Linked DNA regions of Homo sapiens. The protein of the gene in region 1 interacts with the protein of each later gene in a pairwise test. Each region holds a gene or a part of one and is shown on either strand. Other genes may lie near its edges.

Region 1 (7,851 bases):
GAATTAAAAACATTTTCTTCCTTTAAATACCACACATTTGAGGACAGCGATAGTGCAGAGCTAACTTTGAAGCATTATTTTTATTAAGTTGCACAGTTAAAGTATTTTGATACTTTGATATTTTATAGTATCAAAATAAAAGGATATTCTTCTCAAGAGTCCAGTAACCTGGAATTGCCAGATAGCTTTTTAAACGAATAAGTTTCAAATTATCAGAAAAATCATACAAACTAGGGTTATTTTGCTTCCTTTTGTAGGAATAATGCAGTAATCTGCACTCTTAACAGAAAGGGAAAAAATGTGTCACAGATAGAATGTCCAGAAATCTGTGAATAACTTTATGAGATACAGACATTTTTGTAGGGCACGAAAATAGTTAGGCTTCCTTCGATTCCACCTGTAACCTGCATCTAATCTTGAGCATGTTATTTACCTATCTATAACGTCTTCCTTTTACAATAAGACTACCTGTGTCACCTACCTACATAACAACAAGCCAAATAAACCACAACAAATGGATTCATAATATATAAGCCTAACAAAAATTACAGACAATTTGAATACTAACAATACTATGATTTGAAAAAACTCGACTTAAGTATCAAAAAGTAATAAATGGCAACTTTAGTCTTGATGTGGCTTTTACATATGTAAATGACATAAAAACAATCAAGAGAGGAAGAAAATGGAGATGAGATGAAAAGTCAGAGCAGGATAGGAAGTGTTGACCAAAATATTTATGTTGTAACACTCCAAACGATGATAGCACATTTTTCTCCTACAATCATACATACTATGAAGTACACACCTTAAATTTCTGAACACAATCCATATTAATATCCCGTGGGCAAAAAATACAAGCACCGAAAAGGTGAGAACTGATGAGAAGGTGGGATAGTTTACCTAGTTGGGTATATAGCAAAGATTATTTTGTGCAGAGTTTAGCTTCAAGTTATGCAATAACCAAACTACTGGTGATAGAAATCAACTTTTTTTTTCTGATGGTTTGCTTTACAAAAAAAAAAAAAAAAAAAAAAAAAACCTCTCCATTCCTTCCCTGTGTCTCAATCTGGAGCTTGAAATTTCATCTTCCAGAGGCTACAGTAGCAAACAAGTCATCTCCTAGATAACGCGCTTACCTGACCCAAGGTGTGGACTTGTTTGAATTAAACGTAACAGATACCACAAATTGTCACATAGGAAGTTTTTCTTAAAATCAGCAGCCCCTTCTCTTATTTAGCCATGTCCATTCTAACAACTGTGATCTTCCATGAGATGGAAACTGGTACCCAAATGAATAAACAAAACAACCCAAAGCCTTAAAATAAAATCAATCAATAAGATTCTCCCCATTTGAAGTGATCAGAACCACTCCAATATTTACAGTGTTACAAAATGAAATTTTAAAACATGAAAGGCACACTCAATAAAATACATCCTCACCTAGGAACTCACAGGCAATGAACATAACGCAATATAACATAAGCAAATGGACAACAATAGAATGTTGGGGAGAGAGGCACAGTTCTATTACCTTAATTGAAAGATAACAAAATTATTTGAAATAATGTAGACCCAACAGCTGAAAGCTTATTATGGCCCAGGCGGCTATCCAACAGCTTTGGAAACCTAAGATCCAAGCAGACCATAAACACCACTTGAAGACTGAAAAAAATGACATAAGCCCAAGTATGATATTCAGTGTCACGCTGGCCCTTTCAAAGGGCATTCCCTGAGGACACTGCAGAGAAAATGTATGGAATTGTATCTAGGCAAAGATCTGTATACTGCACGATGCTTTGGGAAGAGCACGAATCTCAGAGTCCTTGAAGTTTCAATCCCTGGATACTCAACAAACAGCCGTGTCACCTGAGCAGGCCACTTACTCCACCTATCTGGGCCTCAGTTTCCTCATTTGTACAATAAAAGAATGGCATCATCGCTGGGTTCCTTTCCAGCTCTAACATTCTTTGACCCACTTTTGGCACTATTTATTTGATACGAGGTATGGCGGGATCACAGGGACCAAGAAGAAAAGAACTGACTCTGGCTCTTTGGCAAAGAGAGAATCGGTATCTCTTTTAGTCTTTAAAATTCTTGTGCTTTTCATTAATCCCGTCTTTCTAAAAGCTGACACTTGGTTTTCTTCTTTGGCTTTTCCATCACTGCTGGCTACAAGTGTTTGCAACCGCCTCTTGCTCCGTGTGAGTTCTTTCCTCTTTGTTCACCCCGACCATCTTGCCAGATTCCTTTAGCCTCAGACCAGCTTTTGTGATACAACTCCCCTTCCGACTCTCCATATCTACCCCCCGACACCAGGAGCACTTTTAACCCTTTATCCCTGACTAGAAAGAAAAAGCACACTGCATCCCACGGCCACACGCACGAGCCCAGGCCTGGCGGGTCCTGATGTGGGATCCCGCCCCCCAGAGTCTTATCGAAACGTTCGTATTTGTTGTCTTGATTCCTTATAAGGCCCTGTTTCTTGAAGCTTTGCTAATACCCCCCACCGCACCAGGCACCCCCGCAGGCTCATCCCATCCCCGGAGTCCCGGGAACCTCTTTTGAAAGAAAGAAGTTAAAGCAAGGAAGACGGCTGGGGATATTCGGAATTGCAACGTGAAGGTGTGAGGCGGCTGACAGCAGCCCCCTGAGCTCCTATGGGGTCGGCGCGGGGTCCCCACACACCCACTCAGCACACGCGCACGCAGCCTTTAAAGCGCACGCCCCCCGCGGCGCCGCGGCGTTCGCAAGTCCCCCTCGCGCACCCCGCATTGCCCTCAGCCTCCCCGGCAGCCAACCCGGACCCCCTCTCCCCGCGCGCGCCCCTCGCCCAGCGCGCAACCACCGCGGCCCGGGAGTGATGGCGGCGGCGCGGCCCTGACGGGCGGCTGAGCGGCTGGAGCGCGGGCCCCGCCCGGGCTGGCTCCCCGGCCTGGCTCCCCCGGCCCCGGGCCCAGGGCTCGCCCCGCAGCTCCTACCTCGCTCGGCCCCTCGGGCGCCCGCGGCTGCTCCGGCCCAGCTGTCTGGCTTGCCCGCCCGCCCGCTCGCTCCCTCCCTCGGCCGGGCCGCCGCGCGGAGTTGCCTGCGCTGGGTCCCCGCCCGGGGTGACGGCTCCGGCCGCCGACTCTCCTCCCGCCGGGGCCCGCGGGGGCGCGCGCGCCGCTCACGCGCGGAGGCCCAGGGACGCGCGCCGCTGGCAACCCGGAGCGCGCCCCGCTTCCTGGTTCCGCCCGGCGCGCGCTCGCTAGCCCGCTGTCCCTCGCGCCCCCTCCGCGACCGCCCTTGAAGGACCCGGACCCCCTCGGCACACCCGAGGTGGCGGCGCGCTCGGCGGTGCCGGTGCCGGCGCCGCGCGCACCCCCTTTCTGCGGCGGTGGGGTGTCTTCCCGGCTCGGCTCCCTAGCCGACGCCGCACCGCAAGCACATGCTGCTTTGTTTGGGTTGGGTCGACCACCACTAGCAGGGCTAGGGCGCACTGTCGTGGTCGTTTTGGTTGGCCCCCTCCGCGGCCCGCCCACCTCTCTCCCTGGGAGCCCAGGCCCGCGTTCCGGGTCCTCTCCCGCCGAGGCCGAGGTCAGAAGTCCACAGGGGCCCCGATCAATAATTATCCTGGGTTTGCCCCCGGGAGGGCGTCTCAGCCAGGGCTCCTGCCGCCTGCATGGGCACGGCAGGAATTCACATTCGCCCAGGCCGAATTCACCTGTCCGAGTTCCAGGGTGAACCTACGGGGGACGGGGCGCCTGGGGCCGGTTCCCTTCCTGGGAAAATCTGGCTGGCTCCCACCAGTCAGAGCTGCGGGAGGGACTGCTCTCTCTAGAGAAGAAAGAATAAACAGGGTCATCTGTAGGATCCAGGGGAAGGGGGTCCCCCAGATCCTTTCCACGTGCTGAGGAGGGGGTTGCGGTTGTGGGAAGCCAGGCTGAGTCACCCACTCTCCTTTCCTCTGCTACGTCTATCTCCCGGAGCTGGCCAGCGGTTTCCCTGGCAACCCTCCAAGGGCTAGCACTAAAGCAAGACATAGGAAAGCTCCAGAAGCCAAGCTGCAGGGGCCAAAAGAGAGAGAAGGACCCCTCCCGCCCCCACTCAGACACACAGAGCTCCCCTGTGTGTATGCAAAACGTTCATGTCCAGAGATGGCCCAGAGCTGCAAGTTCTCCCATAGTCCTCCCTGGGCAGCTCTTTCCAGCGGCCTTCTCTTCACCTCCAGAATGACACCAGCCACAAAGGTCTCCAGCTGGTCAAAAAACCCTTCTCCGCTACCCAGGCCACTGCTGCAGTCCCATACTCTGGGCCAACACCTGGCACAGTGCTTTGCACAGAGTAGGTTCAGGGAGCTTGGAGGCCAGAGAAGGAAGCAGGAAGCAGGATGGATGCGCCAACCAACCCCGAGCTCTCTGGCAATCTCCCTGACAGTTACTGCCCATGATGTTTTGACACTCAGGTGCTCCATGTTCTCCATATTTCTCTTTTATCTTTTCTTTTTCTTTTCTTTTTTTTTTTTTTTGAGACGGAGTCTCTCTCTGTTGCCCAGGCTGGAGTGAAATGGTGCGGTCTCAGCTCACGGCAACCTCCACCTCCTGGGTTCAAGTGATTCTCCTTCCTCAGCCTCCTGAGTAGCTGGGATTACAGGCGCACACCACCACATCCGGCTAATTTTTGTATTTTTGTAGTAGAGACGGGGTTTCACCATGTTGGCCAGGCTGGTCTCGAACTCCTGACCTCGTAATCTGCCCGCCTCAGCCTCCCAAAGTGCTGGGATTACAGGCATCAGCCACCGCACCTGACTCATGTTTCTCTTTCTTGTGAGCTTTCATCCCTGCACACATGCTATTCCCTCTGCCTGGAATGTCCTGCCTTCTTGATGTCTGCCCTTCGGTGACATTTGCTTCAGGCAGCATGACCTCCCTCCTTGTTTCCCACCGCGTTATTCATGCCTCTATTACAGCACTTCTTGTGTTGAAGGACAATTTCATGTTTTCATGTTTCTGTCTCTGTCCCCAAGGGCAGACGCAATATGCTATTCACTTTTAAATCCTCCTACTCGTGTTCAAGCCCAGAACAGACACTCAATAAATATTTTTGGAACAAATGCTATGCTCTAGGAATGCAAATGGAGGTTACAAGGACTATGCAGTCATTAAGAGGACAGGGTCTAGCCCGGTGTGGCGACACACACCTGTGGTCCCAGCTACTGAGGAGGCTAAGGTGGGAGGATCACTTGAGCCTGGGAGGTCAAGGGTGTGATGATTTTTTTTTATTTTTATTTTTTGGAGACAGTCTCACAGAAAAAGGTCTCATGGTGTGGTGGCACAATCACAGCTCAAGGCAACCTCCTGGGCTCAAGCAATCCTCCTGCCTCAGCCTTATGAGTAACTGGGACCACAGACGTGCACCACTACTCCCAGATTAATTTTTTAAAATTATTTGTAGGCCGGGCACGGTGGCTCACGCCTGTAGTCCCAGCACTTTGGGAAGCCAAGGTCGGTGGATCACGAGGTCAGGTGTTCCAGACCAGCCTGGCCAATATGTTGAAACCCTGTCTCTACTAAAAATACAAAAATTAGCTGGACGTGGTGGTGCGCGCCTGTAGTCCCAGCTACTGGGGAGGCTGAGGCAGGAGAATTGCTTGAACCCGAGAGGCAGAGGTTGCAGTGAGCCGAGATCACGAAACTGCACTCCAGCCTGGGGCGACAGAGTGAGACTCCATCTCAAAAAAAAAAAAATATTTGTAAAGACAGGGTCTCATTATATTGCCTGGGCTGTTCAAGAACTTATGGCTCAAGCAACCCTCCCTCCTCAGCCTCCCAAAGTGCTGGAATTACATTTGTGAGCCACTGTGCCCAGCCTGAAGCTGTAGTGAGCCATGATTGTGCCACTGCTCTCCAGCCTGGGCGACAGAGTGAGACCTGTCTCAAAAAAAGAAAAAAAAAAAAAAGTACAGGTTCTCAAACCAGACTCTGTCAATTCCTTGAGCTGGGTAATCTTGAGTGTGTTTTCCTCTATCTTCTCGTTTGTAATGTGGTGATAGAGACAGTACCTACCTCATCGGGTTGCGGGAAATAAGTGTTTACTACATGTAAAGTGCTTCACTGTAAAGCACTGTATAGCGGTTAACTACTACTGTGGTGTTTAGTAGCAGCTAAGATGAATACTCCTCTTCCCAAGACCGGCGGTCTAGGACTCAAGCCAGCTGGTTTGTGGCAGCCACAGGGCGCTAGTTTAAATGTCCTGAAGGGGGCCGGGCGCAGTGGCTCACGCCTGTAATCCCAGCACTTTAGGAGGCCGAGGCGGGTGGATCACCCGAGATCGGGAGTTCGAGACCAGCCTAACCAACGTGGAGAAACCTCGTCTTTACTAAAAATACAAAATTAGCTGGGCATGGTGGTGCCATTACAGGATTACATGCCTGTAATCCCAGCTACTTGGGAGGCTGAGGCAGGAGAATCACTTGAAACTGGGAGGCGGAGGTTGCGGTGAGCCAAAATCACACCATTGCACTCCAGCCTGGGCAGCAAGAGCAAAACTCCATCTCAGAAAAAAAAAAAAAAATGTCCTGAAGGGTGGGTGGGAATGCCTCTTGATTCTTGCAGCTCTAGGCACATCTCTGACTGATGGTCACCAGGCACCAAGCTAGACCTGGCTGGGTGTGTGCACAGATGCTGAGGACAGAATGTTCTGGGTCACTACCTCAGCAAAACAGAATGTTGTCATCCTGGGATGGGAAGGCCTGACACCTGCTTCTCTGCTTGACAGTTCTGATGGGGTGGGACCCTCTTCTTCTAGGCCTCGGGGACATATTCCCTTAAATTGAGGGGACACCAGACTTAAGACATGACAGAAAGAAAGAAACTGAACAGGAAGCTAGGATCCTGAAAGACCCCACAGTCCAACCCATCAGGAATGACCCAAGAAGGTACCTGGAGATGCAGCAATGTCCACTGGAGGGTCTCATCCCTTAGTGCACCAGCCTGACCCAGGAGAGAGGCTTGGGGGAAGAGCCTGGGGGTCTAGTCCACAGCCCTTGTCCATGCATGCCCCTGCTCCCATCCTACAGCCTCCTCCCCTCTCTCTCTCATAGATGAACACATGGCTTTCAGAGGGGGCAGCTTCCCTGCTTCACATCCTCCCTCACTCCTGCCCCAGAGATCATGAGGCCATTTTCTGGGAACGTCACTGAAGCCACAACCATGATCCCCTCTGGCCAGAAACCAGAGGCCTTCGTTATTATGGCTTCCCTCCTGCATCCCAGGAGTCAGGCTGACCCTGGGCAACCACCGGCCACACATTTGCTAAGAAAGGGCACTGTGGGAATGTCCCTTTTTCCCTGTGGGGATGAATCCTTCCATAGGGGGATAGGTCAGTACAGGACCCTGGAGCCATGTGGAGAAGGTATAGGATGCTCAACAGAAAAGAAGGCGGGGATGCCAGATCTCCAAGGCCTCAGAATGGCGTGGCCTCGGTTTGGAATGGGCTCTGCAGTTTCGGAGGGCTCTGTCAGTGCCCCTGCTTACTTCTGCCAGAGCATTGGTGGTGAAAAGTTAGATATGGTTCTAAATCCCAGCTCTGCTAACTTACTAGCTGTTGGCCGGGCGCGGTGGCTCACACCTGTAATCCCAGCACTTTGGGAGGCCGAGGCGGGTGGGTCAGGAGGTCAGGCGATCGAGACCATCCTGGCTAACACGGTGAAACCCTGACTCTACTAAAAATACCAAAAATTAGCCGGGCGTGGTGGCGGGCGCCTGTAGTCCCAGCTACTCCGGAGGCTGAGCCAGGAGAATGGCGTGAACCCGGGAGGCTGAGGTTGCAGTGAGCAGAGATCGCGCCACTGCACTCCAGCCTGGGCGACAG
Region 2 (7,736 bases), on another chromosome or scaffold:
AGCGCATAGAACAGCACCTGCTGAGAGCTTGCTCTTCTAATTCTTAGGAAGGTATTATGCAGAGAATAAGGAACTCCTTAAGATGATAAAGGAGCCCAGTACACCCAGGAACTCCACCACTTGTGCCCCACTGCAGAACAAATATTTACTGAACACCTACTATGTGCCAGGCATCGTTCTGGGCTCTAGAAATGCAACGGTGAACAACAACAAACCATAAACCCCTGCCCATATGGAAGCCATAAATGTGCAAAGAAATGGTAAATCCATTTACTGACCCTGAAAGCCCAGGCACAGATCCACAATTAATTACCAAAGCTACAAGGAACAGAAGAACAGGGAACCACACACACGCACACATAGAATCTGGCATAGTTCGAAACCACTCATCTTGGATTTTCTTTTTATTTATTTATTTATTTTTGAGACAGAGTCTCGCTCTGTCGCCCAGTGGCACGATCTTGGCTCACTGCAAGCTCCGCCTCCCGGGTTTACGCCATTCTCCTGCCTCAGCCTCCGGAATAGCTGGGACTACAGGCGCCCGCCACCACGCCCGGCTAATTTTTTCTATTTTTCAGTAGAGACAGGGTTTTACCGTGTTAGCCAGGATGGTCGTGATCTCCTGAACTGGTGATCCACCCGCCTCGGCCTCCCAAAGTGCTGGGATTACAAGCGTGAGCCACCACGCCCCGCCTTTTTTTTTATTTTTTTGAGACAAAGTCTCGCTCTTTGGCCAGGCTGGAGTGCAGTGGTGCCATCTGAGCTCACAGCAACCTCCTCCTCCCGGGTTCAAGCAATTGTCCCGCCTCAGCCTCCCAAGTAGCTGGGACTACAGGCGAACGCCACCAAACCCAGGTAATTTTTGTATTTTGAGCAGAGAAGGGAGTTTCACCATGTTGGCCAGGATGGTCTCCATCTCCTGACCTCGTGATCCGCCCGCCTCAGCCTCCCAAAATGCTGAGATTACAGGCTTGAGCCACCGCAGCTGGCCAGATTTTCTTAACAAGAACTCCAACTAACCGCCACCCTTCATTGAGCACCTACTGTCTCCCAGGCACCTGGGGGCGGGGCTGGGGGGGGGTGGGCCCGGGGCTTTTAGACATTATGTGATTGACAGAGTCGACTCAGCAAACCCGGTTGGTCCACTCTAGCACCTGATTTTACATGCACCCGTTTCCCCATCAATACATTTAAGAGCTTCAATTCCTTCCCTCCCTGACCCCTTCCTCATCACGACTGATTTCCTTTTATGGAGAAATCTGAAACAGTAACCCAACAGATATTTTTAAAGCAGGGCCTCAGACCCCACAGTGGGAAACCCAGGCTATATTCCTTAAATGATTGCGCCATCTTCATCTTACAACCCCAAAGGTGCCTATTGTCAAGCCCAAGGAAGATGCTGCCCACACGTGGGAGAGGGGCCCATGGGGTCAGGGGGAACGAAAGGCTCACTCAAGGTCAAAGGCTCCTTCATGAAGCGCAGGGCTGAGGGGAGAGGAGGGGTCAAGGAGACAGCAGACAAGGGACAGTAGTCCAGATTCTTGGGCAGAACGGGACACACAGAGGCTCAAGTCCTGGCTCTGGCACTGACTTTAGGGCAAGGGAGTTATGCGTCCTACATGAGCCTCAGTTTACTCCTCTGTGAAATGGGTGCATAACTGTATCTGCCTCCGGGGGCCACTGTGACAGTCCAGAGAGATAAGATAGACTAGGCTGTGGCGTGCGGTGATACCAATTACAATAAATAGGGTAAAAAACCGCCACTACTTCTGCTACAATTGCTGCTGTTGCTAAGGCTTTAGAATTTGCCTCCGGACATCTGGAAACAGAACCCAAAAGGGTAAACATGGACCTAGAGTCCGGGGTGGCCACGGGCCTAGATCCAAGGTAGTTGGGTAGAGGGGGGCTCTGCAGTCCCTGACCCCAGGCAGCGTCACCCACCGGTGAGGCACTCAGGGCGCTTGGCTCTACCTACACCATATGCGCTCGGGGGACTTGGCTGTTCGGGGCTGTCCAGACCCAGTGACCCCACTTCCCGGCCGCGACCCAAAGATGACGCGTGTCGTGTCTCCGGAGCGACTTGGGCTCGGAGGGGCCGGGGCACGGGTCGGAGGCGCGCTCCAGAGAGGAGCCCGCGGCGGGGCGGGCACCGGGGCAAGGTTCCTCGGGCTCAGGTCGGGCACGCAGGGCGCGGAGGCGCGAGCCCGGGCGGGCAAAGGCCAAGGTCAGAGGCTTCCCGCTCCCCCTACGCGATGCAGGAGCTACCGTCCTGGCCACCGCCCCCCGCCCCTGGGGAGGGTTCTCAGTCCACAAGCGGGGGCTCGATTTTGGCTTGGGTGGGGTCCTCTCCCCATCGCGGCGCTCCCCGCCCACGCCCGCGCCCCCAGACTCACCCTCTCCGGGGTACAGGTGGCCCGCGGCGCCCAGTAGCAGCGCGGCCACCGCCACCAGCAGCGGCGCGGCCGCCGCCCCCCGCCGGCCCCCGGTGGCCATGGCTGCGGGAGCGCGGGGTCTCCTCGGATCAGAGCGCGCGGCGCTGGCCCGCGGGGGTCATGCTCCGAGGCGGCCACCCAAGAGGCGCTGGGGGCCGCGCGTCCTTCTCTTCCACGCCCGCGACCCGCGGGCCGCAGCCCCCCTGCCGGGGAGGGCCCAGAGGCAGCCCCGGGAAGGGCGCGCGCGGCTTCGCCAGCTACAAATACTGAGCGGAGGCCCTTGCGGTGGTGGCCCCGACCCCCCGGCCGCTGCGGCCCGGGCCCCGTCCCAGGATCTCGGGGCCCGGAGCTCCGCGCTGCGCCCGGGACTGTCTCTCGGCTCTCGGCCCCGCGCGCTCTGGGTCGCGATCTGCGGGCTCCGGGACAGAGGGACGCGCGGACCGACGGACTAGCTGACTGGCGGGCGGGCACCTGGGCTGGCGGGTGGCGGGCGGGCGGCGGGAGAGAGGGCTGCTCGGGCCCGTAAACAACGCGGCCCGTCAGCTGGGCCCCGTGCGGGCCGCGGGAAAAGGCGGCGCGGATCTGGCCTAGGAAGGGACTCTGCGCCCGGGAGAGGCCCAGGAGAGGGAGGGAAAGCTTGCAGGGGAGGGAGGTGCCGCCCGGCCCCGCCCCGCCCCGCCCGCCTCCCCGCCTCCCTGTGCCGGGCCCCGCGCGGGAGGCCCTGGGCGCGCCGGGACCGAGGGCGCGCCCCAGATCCGCGCGCCCTACAGCCCCGAGTCTCCTCCAGTTTCAGACCCCCGGAGGCGCCCCACAGGCCCGACGCAGCGGCACAGATCCTTTCTCTACCATTTTGCTATTTTGTTCATAGTGGGCTTTGGAGGATTCCTGTTGATTTTTTAAAAAATACTGCATTAAAATGTTTATTTTGGTGACTCGAGGTGGTTTTGGTTTCTTTCTTTTTTTTTTTTTTTCACTCCCTTAAATTTTGCACCCCAGGCGAGTAGTGTCTCACTCGCCTTTCCTCAGTCCGGGCCTGGCCAGCGACACTCGTCCCAGAGCGCGTGGGCGCCCCCAGATGTCCCGCCCGCGAGTGCGCCCCGGCCCAGGGGCGAGACCCAAGCCAGGCCCCTGGGGACAGCCACGTGCCCGCGTGCCCAGTGCGCTCCCTGTGTTCAAGTTGGAGAAATGACACCTGGAAAAATGTGCAGACGCTTCTGAAAGGGCAAAGACGACGCCAAAGAAGACGCCGGAGACCTCGAATAGGGCGCAGGTGGACATCTCTGATTTTCAGCAGACCAGCCTGTATGTGTCTGAAGTCTAGCAACGACATTCACCAACAAGGCGGGACAGCGGTTCCACCTACCTTACTGCAGGAGAGGAAGGGGCTTTCAGTATAGGAAAGCCAGAACTCAATGGGAGGAGGGTTCCTCCACCCCTCACTCCTGTGTGGTCTTGGACCAGGGACTTTTCTGTCTCTGGGCCAGTTTCACTTGTGTAATGGGTTTAATAATACCTGCATGCCAGTTCTGGGGAGGTACCCGGGAAAGAAAACTTAAGAAAGCGCCCAGCACAACCCTAGACCCAAGGCATTCATTCTTCTTTCATTCAATAAACAGTTTGCTAGGAGCTGGACCCACTGTTCATGCAACAGGCCAAACCTATTCCTGCCTCTGGGCCTTTGCCCCAGCATTTCCCTTGCCCGTAACACTCCAGGATGGCTTCATCTCTGAAGTGCCATCCCTAACCATATTTTTGCAAATCCTCCCCCCAGTTCCGTTTCCTTCTCTCTCTCTCTCTCTCTGTTTTTTTTTTTTTTTTTTTTTTTTTTTTTTTTTTTTTTTTTTTAGATGGAGTTTTTCTCTGTTGCCCAGGCTGGAGTGCAATGGCCAGATCTCAGTTCACTGCAACATCACCTGCCTGGGTTCAAGTGATTCTCCTGCCTCAACCTCCCAAGTAACTTGGATTACAGGCATGCGCCAGCACACCCAGCTAATTTTCTGTATTTTTAGTAGAGACAGGATTTCACCATGTTGGCCTGGCCGGTCTCAAACTCCTGACCTCAGGTGATCCACCGGCCTTGGCCTCCCAAAGTGCTGGGATTACAGGCCTGAGCCACTGCGCCTGGCCCCTTCTCTCTCATTTTCATAGCATGTTTACCCCACTACCTGCAATTGTTTGTTTTTTTTTTTTCTTTTCTTTCTTTTTTTTTCCTTTTGACAGAATCTTGCTGTCACCCAGGCAGGAATGCAGTGGTGCAATCCTAGCTTACTGCAGCCTTGAACTCCTGGCCTCAAGCAATCCTCCTGCCTTGGCCTCCCAAGGTGCTAGGATTACAGGCATGCGCCACCATGATTGGCCTTGAAATTCTTATTCGTTTTCTGTGTCTTCTCCCCTTCCCGTGAAGGCGGAAATCTTTTCGGTCTTGTTTCACTGCTTAAACCCAGTGCCTGACAAATCTGTTGCTTAATAAATATTTGTTGAGTGGGAGAATCAACAAGCAATAAGTAATAGGGGATTTTTCAGTGAGCAAAATAAACATGACCCATTTCCTTATGGAGTTCACAACTGAGCCAGGGAGAGAGCCCTTAAAATAATTGAGTGTGTAATGAGCTGAGGGAAATGGGAGGTGCATAGGGAGGGGTTTGCTGAGGACATGGGGTTTTTTGTTTGTTTGTTTTTTGATGGATCTTACTCTGTTGCCCAGGCTGGAGTGCAGTGGCACGATCTTGGCTCACTGCAACCTCCGCCTCCCAGGTTCAAGCAATTCTCCTGCCTCAGCCTCCAGAGTAGCTGGGATTACAGGTGCATGCCACCACGCCTGCCTAATTTTTGTATTTTTAGTAGAGGCAGGGTTTCACCATATTGGACAGGCTGGTCTTGAACTCCTGACCTCAAGAGATCTGCCTGTCTCGGTCTCCCTAATTGCTGGGATTACAGACGCGTGAGCCACTGCACCTGACTGAGGATGTGATTTTGAGCTTAAGTCTGAAAATGAAGAGGAGCCATCCTAGGGAAGCCATAGGGATGTGTTTCAGGTGGGGGAAGGCATGAGCAAAGGCCCAGAGGAGAGTGGGCAAGGCATTCTTGCAACTGAACCAGGCATTCACTGTAGCTGCAGAAAAGAAAGAGGAGAAAGTGAAGCCATGGGTGAGAACTGCAGTGGGCCCTTGAACATGAGTTTGAACCGTGCACATCTTTTTTTTTTTTTTTTTTGAGGCAGAGTCTCGCTCTGTCACCCTGGCTGGAGTGCAGTGGAGCAATCTCAGCTCACTGCAATCTCCACCTCCAGGGTTCAAGCTATTCTCCTGCCTCAGCTTCCCAAGTATCTGGGACTACAGGCACACGCCACCTCACCCGGTTAATTTTTGTATTTTTAGTACAGACGGGATTTTACCATGTTGGCCAGGCTGGTATCGAACTCCTGACCTCAGCTGATCTGATCAGCCTCCCAAAGTGAGGTCATCTTTAAACAGAATGTTTTTCAATAAATATATTGGAAACATTTTTAGAGATTTGCAATAGTTTGAAAAGACTTGCAGATGAACTTGGTAGCCAAGAAATATTAAAAAAAAATTAGGTATGTCATGAATGCATAAAATATATGTAGATACTAGTCTGTTTTATTATTTTTGTTATTATTTTCTTTTAGAGACAGGGTCTTGCTCTGTTGCCCAGGCTGGAGAGCAGTGGCCCAATCATGGCTCACTGTAACCTCCAACTCCTGGGTTCAAGCGATCTTCCTGGCAAGCACCAACACGCCCGGCTAATTTTTTTACTTTTTATAGAGACGAGGTCTCACCATGTTGCCCAGGCTGGTCTCTAACTCCTGAACTCAAGTGATCCTCCTGCCTCTACCTCCCACAGTGCCGAGATTACAGGTATAAGCCACCATGTCCAGCCCTATTTTATAATTTGCTAACATAAAATATACACAAATCTGTTACAAAAAGTTAAAATGTATTAAAACGTACACACACACTTACAAACCATACATGGTGTTATTCCAAGTCAAGAGAAATGTAAATAAATGTAAAGATGCAGCATTCAATCATAACTGCATAAAATTAACTATAGAATATATTGTGTTATTGTAACAATTTCATAGCCACCTCCTGTTGCTACTGGAGTGAGTGCAAGTGTTGCAAGTATCCGCTTTAAATGCCATGTTACATTAATTATCTCCCTGTGGGCAGTTCACCTCTCCAGGAATTTGTGCCCCGGTAAAAAGGGATCTCTTGGCGGTTCCCGCGTATTTTTCACTGTGTTTAGTGCAATACCGCAAACATTGAATAACATCCTGAGACCCATGTAAAGTGCCACTAGTGATGCTGGAAATGCTCCCGAGAAGCAGAGAAAAGTCAGGACAGGACAAGAAAAAGTTGAATTGCTTGCTACGTAACATAAATGGAGCTCTACAGCTGCGGTTGTCTGCTTCAGACAGACAATTCATCTTGTAAACAAATTTATGGCATTGATAAATATTGTAGCGTTCTGTAACTGTAAATGTATTTTCTCTTCCTTGTGATTTTCTTTTTCTTTTTCTTTTTTTCTTCTTTTTGGAGACAGGGTTTCACTCTGCTGCCCAGACTGGAGTGCAGTGGCACCATCAGGGCTCACTGCAGCCTCTACCTCCTGATCTCGGGTGATCCTCCTGCCTCAGCCTCCCAGGGAGCTGGGATTACAGCCACATGACACCATGCCCAGCTGTGATTTTTTAAATAACATTTTCTCTTCTCTAACTTGCTTTATTCTAAGACTGTAGTGTGTAGAGGCTGGGCACAGTGGTTCACTCCTGTAATCCCAGCACTTTGCAAGACAGAGGGAGGCGGATCACTTGAGGTCAGGAGTTCGAGACCAGCCTGGCCAACATTACAAAACCCCATATTTACTAAAAATACAAAAATTAGCCAGGCGTGGTGTGCTTGTAATTCCAGCTACTCTGGAGGGCTGAGGCATGAGAATTACTTGAACCTAACAGGCGGAGGTTGCAGTGAGCCAAGATCATGCCACTAGCGCACTCCAGCCTAGGTGATGCAGTAAGACTCTATCTCAAAATAATAATAATAATAAAGTAAGAAAGAAAGAAATACAGTATGTAATACTTGTAACATACAAAATGCCTGTTAATCGGCTGTTTATGTTATTGCTAAGTCTTCAGGTCAACAGCAGGCTATAAGTAGTTAAGTTTTCAGGGAGTCAAAAGTTATATTCAGATTTTCAACTCTGTAGGGGTGAATTGGCACCAGTAGCCACAACACTATTGAAAGGTCAACTATAAAAAGTGCAGAACCTAGAATATGCCAT
Region 3 (7,181 bases), on another chromosome or scaffold:
CTCCACTGTACTCCAGCCCGGGCGACAGAGCAAGACTCTGTGTCGAGAAAAAAAAAAAAAAAACTAACCATTTACAAGATATAAATGGAAATGCTCCTTCCAAGTTTCCCACATAAAGTATCATAAATCCCTGACTTTTCTTCCACACATATTTTTCTTATTCAAGCACTGCAACAGTTTCATATGGTTTATCCATCCCTCTATTTAGAGAGGAAGGAACCAAGGCTCAGTATATTACTTAATTACCAAGTTATTAAGTTGCAAAGCCAGGACTCCCACCCACACCAGAAGTATGCAGAAATCATTGGCGTGAATAGTGATTACATCTCTCTAGGTTTGACCCTGAATCTCCATGGCCTAAGAATTCCTTTTCTCAGCCTAGGCAACACAGTGAGACCCTATTTCTTTTTTTTTTTTTTTTTTTTTTGAGACTGAGTCTCGCTCTGTCACGCAGGCTGGAGTGCAGTGGCGCGATCTCAGCCAGTGAGACTCTATTTCTACAAAAAAAAATTTTTCAATTAGCATCACATGGTGGCACATGCCTGTGGTCCTAGCTACTAGGGAGGCTGAGTAGGAGGATTGCTTTAGCCCAGGAGATCGAGGCTGCACTGAACAGTGATCACGCCACTGCACTCCAGCCTGGGTAACAAATGGAGGCTGTCTCAAAAAAAACAAGAATTCCTCTTCCCCAATTCCAGCTTGTCTTAACAAGCCAAGAAATTATCAGATGTTTGTTGTTTAAGTCATCCTTAAGGTTCCTCCAACTTTGAGATTCCAGGATTGTAAAATCTCTGAGGAACCAGACAACTATTTACTGTCCTTTTTATGTTATCTATGACATCTTTTTATTTCAGTGTTTTCACTTCAATAATCTTTAAAAATTAACACGAGCATTTTCTCAAGCACTGGGTATTCATATTATAACTAAGTACTACCATACAATTTTTGTGTCCAAGTTTATGATTTGTATGTGTACGGTATGAATAAAATAAAAAATAGCAGGATGCATTAAGATATGCAACTGAACTCAAAAGAATTTGTACTAGAGCACTCAGTATCTTATCAAGTGTACTGTGGGGATCTCATCTTTAACAGAGCAACGTACTATGTACATTAGCTATAGGTGTAACGGCAAATACACAATTAAACATTCCTATTCCCAATTCCTTACTCAACAGATTTCCAAAACTGCAATGTAAATCTTTTTTAAAAATTAGTTTCACTAAGATATCGTTCACATACCATACTATTGACTCATTTAAAGAGTACAATTAAAATATCTTTAGTTCATTCAGAGTTGTACAAGCAGAACCACGATCAATTTTACAATATTTCATCACCTCACAAGGAAACCCTGTGCCCATTAACGGTCACTTCCCACTTCTAATGTGTTTACTATGAGCTTAAAGGGCTTCCATACAAGCTTCCCAGTAAGCAACTGGTAGGTACTAAATATTTGTATAATGAATGAATGACACTACAAATGATACCTACATTTTTCTCTAGTCATCTCTTCTGAACTCCAAACCTTCATTTCTAACTGCTTGCTAGGTATCTCCACATGTATATCCAACAGCATCTCAAACCTAACAATGTCCAAAATCCAGATTATTATCTTCCTTACCAAACCTGTTCTTCTTGTATTACCTATTTCAATGATCGCCCAATCTTCCTCCCACTCAGCTGCAAATTCTAGGTCTTTAAATCTCTCTCATTCTCCATTTTTAAATAATTCCCGTGATTCTCTGTTCCCAGAATGTTCTCTGTTCCCTACTGTAATGCCCTGTTTAGGTCTCTCAGTAACTTTCTACTATACTATTAAAACAGGCCTCTAACTGGTCACCCCGCGTTTAAAATTCCTCTTTCCAATACATCCTTTATGCAGCCATTCAAGTTATCTTTCCAAAACAAAGAAATGCTTATGTCACTTCTACTCAAAGTTCAGTGCCTCGGAAAAATTGTCATAGCCCTAAAGGTAAACCCCTTCGTTTACAGAAAAACTCCCCAGAGCTAGAGATTCAGCAACTTGCCAAAAATTAGACATCTACTTAGATGCAAAACGTAAAAAACTAGAACTTAAAACTTCTGACTGCTACTTTAGTTGTCTTTTACTCTGCACCACACTAAGAAAAAACCAAGTGCAATTTCTCACTCCCTAACAAAATGCCCGACTTTATTTCCAAATGTTTTTTATTTATTGCAAATATGCTGCGTTGACCTTCGTTCCAACCTAAGTACTAATTCTTAAGTCCCAAGTTAATAATATTTAACTTCCAAATGGTGCCTAAATGCATTTCTGAGCCTCATGATCAAGTGGGATAAACTTTAATAAATTGGATTATCTTGAGAAACTTCAGAAAATAAATTCGACACGAAATGTATGAAGGCCGTAAACAATCCACACACTCCTGCCCCCCGAACTGACAGGCAAAGGAGAAACGGGCGACCCAGCCCAGCCGAGTAGGCAGCTGTCCCTTTTCCAAACCCAGAAAGTAAGTGGTATGAAAGGAGAGGGTAGCTCTGGACTGAAACATTCAGGGCAAGGCCTCCTGGCATCCTCTACCCCACACCACAAAGGCCTCAGAAATAAGGCCCCAAGGTCCGTAGGCAGGCCCCGGCTGCGGGTGCAGTCCAAGAGCCCCCGCCCCGGGGACTCGCTGACTCTGGCTTTCTCAGGACAGTCTGTTCCTATATCCCTACCCCCAAAACCAAGCAAAGGAGCAAGAACATCGCCCCTAAAAACCCGCGAGGGGAAGGGCCAAAGCCGCAGGGCTTCAGACTGGCCGCTCCCGGGCCCGCCAGATCCAGGAGGGATGCCCAAGGAGGGCGGTTTCCTCTCTCGGGGCGAACTCGGCCCCAGGCCCCAAGTAGCCGGTACTGGCCCCCGCCCTCTCGGGTACTACCTAACCGAGGAGGGGTGGCCAGGCCCACCTCGGAGCTCACCTTCCAGTTCCGGGAAGCCGGCCGGCCGTCAGTCGGTCCCGAATTCCGTCCACACACAGCGTCTTCCGGCTCCCGCCGGAAGCAGCTCGAGCGCGGGACAGGAAGTTTGGCTGACCCCCCACGCACACACCCACTCGCTCGCCTCAGTGTCGTGTGGCTGCCGCACTGCTCGGGACCCAGACGTCAAGGGTGCTGGCGGGGCCTCCCCAGGCCCGCGACGCAGGGCTCCGCCCCGGACAGGAGGAGCCGCAGCCGCCCCGCTCCCACTCACTCACTCACTCTCGGCCTTCGGGACTCCTATGTCCGCGAAGCCCGAAAAAACAGGTCAGCTAATTCGTTGACGTCACTGCCACCCCGCAGTAGCGGAGGGAGTAGTTTTTCCCATCAGCGGAGGCGTTGCAATGGAGGCAAACGCGAAAGAAAAGATCACTGCTTAAACATTTATCAAAGGTCTCCATGGAGAGGACCTTCGAAGTTTCACCGCCCGAGAAAGGAACTTGCAGAATCAAGTTTTGCATTATATACGGGACGGGGTATGCAGTGAGTCTGGGTTCCGTGTTGTAATTAGGATGTAAAGAGCTCTTGGATGTCCCGACTGCGGGCTTGAACACTTGACTTCCAAGCTGGATGCCACCTTGTTAAAGCTTTGTGAGTTTGACTGACTTCTTGAAATTACTTATTTTAAAATATTTGCGTGCGGAAGAATGAGAGACTCAACCGTGGGAATTAAAGGAGTTCTCTTTAAAAAGGCATTTTCAAGGTTAAAGATAAGCCTTGATGACAGGTTTGGGTACACAAATTACTAATGGTGATTTAAAATAAAGGAGAAACATTTCAGAGGAAGATAATTCCACTTTAGAAAAGCAGAGTAGGCCGGACTCCGTGGCTCACGCCTTTAATCCCAGCACTTTGGGAGGCTAAGGTGGGCGGATCACGAGGTCAGGAGATCGAGACCATCCTGGGTAACGCCGTGAAAACCCGTCTCTACTAAAAACACAAAAATTAGCCGGGCGTGGTGGCACGCGCCTGTAATCCTAGCTACTCGGGAGGCTGAGGCAGGAGAATCGCTTGAACCCGGGAGGCGGAGGTTGCAGTGAGCCGAGATCGTGCCGCTGCACGCCGGGCGACTGAGCAAGACTCCATCTCAAAAAAGAAAAGAAAAGAAAAAAGCAGAGTATAAGATGCAATCCAGAGTTGAGGATATTTACTTGGAGGTAAAGGTCCAGTGCTCAAGAAAGAGGTCAGAAATACAGATGGAGATTTGGGAGTTAGCAACATACAGAGAAAAGTGAAACCCCCTCAGGCGATGAAATGGTCCAGGAAAAGTAACAAAAAAGGGCCACTCACGAAAACTGGGGAGGCTGATTACCAACACAGTTTGAATCTACTTATTACAAATGTTGCATACAAAAGTATATTGGCAGTGTGTAGACAATCATAAGCCAAAACATTCAGAAACAATAATCTTCAGTTTTACTGTTCTGCGAGGGTTGAGTACAATTAATAAAACAAACTTTTGAGGTACATCAGTAGTTCCTGAACATTCATGTTTACAAACATTTGTTAATTTGCCCAGTCCTGTCATTTTCTGAAACTGTCTTTGTTGTCAATCTGTTTTTGTTTTTTGAGATGGAATTTCACTCTTGTCGCCCAGGCTGGAGTGCAATGGTGCAAGCTCAGCTCACGGCAACCTCCCCCTCCCAGGTTCAAATGATTCTCCAGCCTCAGCCTCCTGAGTAGCTGGGATTACAGGCGTGTGCCACCACGCCCAGCTAATTTTTGTATTTTTAGAGAGATGGGGTTTCACCGTGTTGGCCAGGCTGGTCTTGAACTCCTGACCTCAAGTGATCTGCCCGCCTCTGCCTCCCAAAGTGCTAGGATTACAGGCTTGAGACATCAGGCCCGGCTGTCAATCTTTTTAATCACCTACAAGTGATGTTTACATCTGTTTGCCCTCTCAATCTTTACAACTTGACAGTATGTGCCTGCTAACCTAAAATAAACATATGCTTTTCTCAATATATATGGAGTTTTTAGGCTATACAGTAAATTATTTGGCAAATACAAAGAGATGATCCTCTGGAGTAAATCTTGTCAACTTAACCAACCTAAGTTATTTATCTTCCCATACTAATCCCAACCCAAAACCGCTGGTCTCCTATCCCAAAAACTGTTACACAAGCTCCGAAACCCCCAATCCTGCCCCCAGTCCCTATGTACACATCATACCATTAAGTCTCTTTTCAGTCTACAATGTGAAAAAAAGGCCATCTCAATTCTATTTTTACACCAAGTTTCAGTTTAAGAATCATGTAAAACATTTCCAGTTCAACAAATCTTTACTCAGTGCCTCTCAAGCATTCTATTTTATTTTAAGCATTCTATTTTAAATTAATAAAAGTTATTAATATTAATTTTAAAAAACCTATTGTGTATGATTCATTAATGGTTGTATCAGATCATGTAAAACGTTTCCAGTTTAACAAATCTTTACAAAGTGCCTCTCAAGCGTTCTATTTTAAATTAATAAAAGTAATTACTAAAAGTTATTAATTTTTAAAAACCTATTGTGTATGATCCATTAATGATTGTATCAAATACCCTATGCAACTAAAAATAACACCTATGATCACATTTAAATCAAGAGCTATGTATAGTCTAAGGATTTTTTAACATATCTTTGAAAATATGCAAAATGGAAAAGAAATCTATGATTGCCTTGATGACATTTACAGCAATTACAAAGAGATTTCTTCTGAAATGCAAACTATCTGCTTTCCAATGTTACCTCCTGTCATCATGGACTGGAATGCAGCTGGAAAAAGAGAAAGTAGGTTATCTGAAAAGATAAATGTCACTATCATACTTGTTTCCAAAAGGTACAACATATAAAATTATGTTAAATAACTTTTTCAATGATTTTGAATATTAAGCATAGAAGAAAATGGTCATGAAAAGAAATCTCAAGTAAAAAGTTACACACAAACTAACCCAATTAACATCTTAAAAAAATGTTTTGCCCATACTGGAAAGATTTAATTGGTATCTAACTGGTATGCACATCAATGTTCATTGTTTACAGTATCTGAAGACTAGAGGCAAAAAAAAATGGGAATAAAATGTGAGTGAAGGCCGGGCATGGGGCCTCACGACTGTAATCCCAGCACTTTGGGAGGCCAAGGTGGGTGGATCACTTGAAGTCAGGAGTTTAAGACCAGCCTGACCAACATGGTGAAACCCCATCTCTACTAAAAATACAAAAATCAGCTGGGAGTGGTGGTGTGTGCCTGTAGTCCCAGCTACTCGGGGGGCTAAGGTGGGAGCATCACCTGAACCTGGGAGGTAGAGGCTGCAGTGAGCCATGATCGCACCACTGCACTCCAGCCCGGGTGACAGAGCATGGCCCTGTCTCAAAAATTAAAAAAAGGGCTAGGCACTCACACCTGTAAATTCCAGCACTTTGGGAGGCTGAGGCAGAAGGATCATTTGAGGCCAGGAGTTGCCTGGACAATATAGTGAGACCCTGTTTCTATGGAAAATTAAAAAAAAAAAAAAGGTTGGGCATAGTGGCAGGTAATTGTAGTACCAGCTACTCTGGTGAGAGGATTGCTTGAGCCCATGGGTTCATAAGTTACAGTTAGCTATGATCATGCCACTGCACTCCAGCCTGGGCAACAGAGCAAGATCATCTCTTTAAAAAAAAAAAAAAAAAAAAAAAAAAAAAAAAGGGAGGTGAGGGGAGGGAAGGGCAGGGAAGGGGAGGCCAGAGAGGTAGCATTAAAAGATAAAAGACTTTGGCCTGTGCGGTGGCTCACGCCTGTAATCCCAGCACTTTGAGAGGCCGAGGCAGGCAAATCACTTGAATTCAGGAGTTCAAGACCAGCCTGGCCAATATGTTGAAACCCTGTCTCTACTAAAAATACAAAAATTAGCCAGGCATACCAGTGCACGCCTGTAGTCCCAGCTACTTGGTAGACTGAGGCAGGAGAATTGCTTGATCTCGGGAGGTGGAGGTTGCAGTGAGCCAAGATCATACCACTGCACTCCAGCCTGGGAGACAGAGCAAGACTCCGTCTCAAAAAAAAAAAAAAAAAAAAAAAAAAAAAAAAAAAAAAGGGCCAGGCGTGGTGGCTCACGCTTGTAATCCCAGCACTTTGGGAGGCCAAGGCAGGCAGATCACGAGGTCAGGAGATCGATACCATCCTGGCTAAGACAGTGAAACCCCGTCTCTACTAAAA

Evidence for each region.
Region 2: the proteins of STAT5B (region 1) and INSR interact in a two-hybrid assay, tested with the Homo sapiens proteins (one study listed by IntAct).
Region 3: the proteins of STAT5B (region 1) and ZNF410 interact in binary tests that used the Homo sapiens proteins (3 or more experiments, as listed by UniProt).

The regions. Positions count from the first base shown.
Region 1 is NC_000017.11:42,273,267-42,281,117, forward strand, and holds the start of STAT5B (signal transducer and activator of transcription 5B), read right to left. Parts: upstream 3,126-7,851; 5' UTR 2,982-3,125; intron 2,368-2,981; exon of another isoform or gene 1-2,367. UniProt on the Homo sapiens protein: Carries out a dual function: signal transduction and activation of transcription. Mediates cellular responses to the cytokine KITLG/SCF and other growth factors. Binds to the GAS element and activates PRL-induced transcription.
Region 2 is NC_000019.10:7,291,399-7,299,134, forward strand, and holds the start of INSR (insulin receptor isoform Long preproprotein), read right to left. Parts: upstream 3,017-7,736; 5' UTR 2,494-3,016; coding exon 2,394-2,493; intron 1-2,393. UniProt on the Homo sapiens protein: Receptor tyrosine kinase which mediates the pleiotropic actions of insulin.
Region 3 is NC_000014.9:73,882,678-73,889,858, reverse strand, and holds the start of ZNF410 (zinc finger protein 410), read right to left. Parts: upstream 3,001-7,181; 5' UTR 2,944-3,000; intron 1-2,943. Other genes in the region: PTGR2 (prostaglandin reductase 2), read right to left, coding at 5,682-5,758. UniProt on the Homo sapiens protein: Transcription factor that binds to the sequence motif 5'-CATCCCATAATA-3', and is specifically required to silence expression of fetal hemoglobin in adult erythroid cells.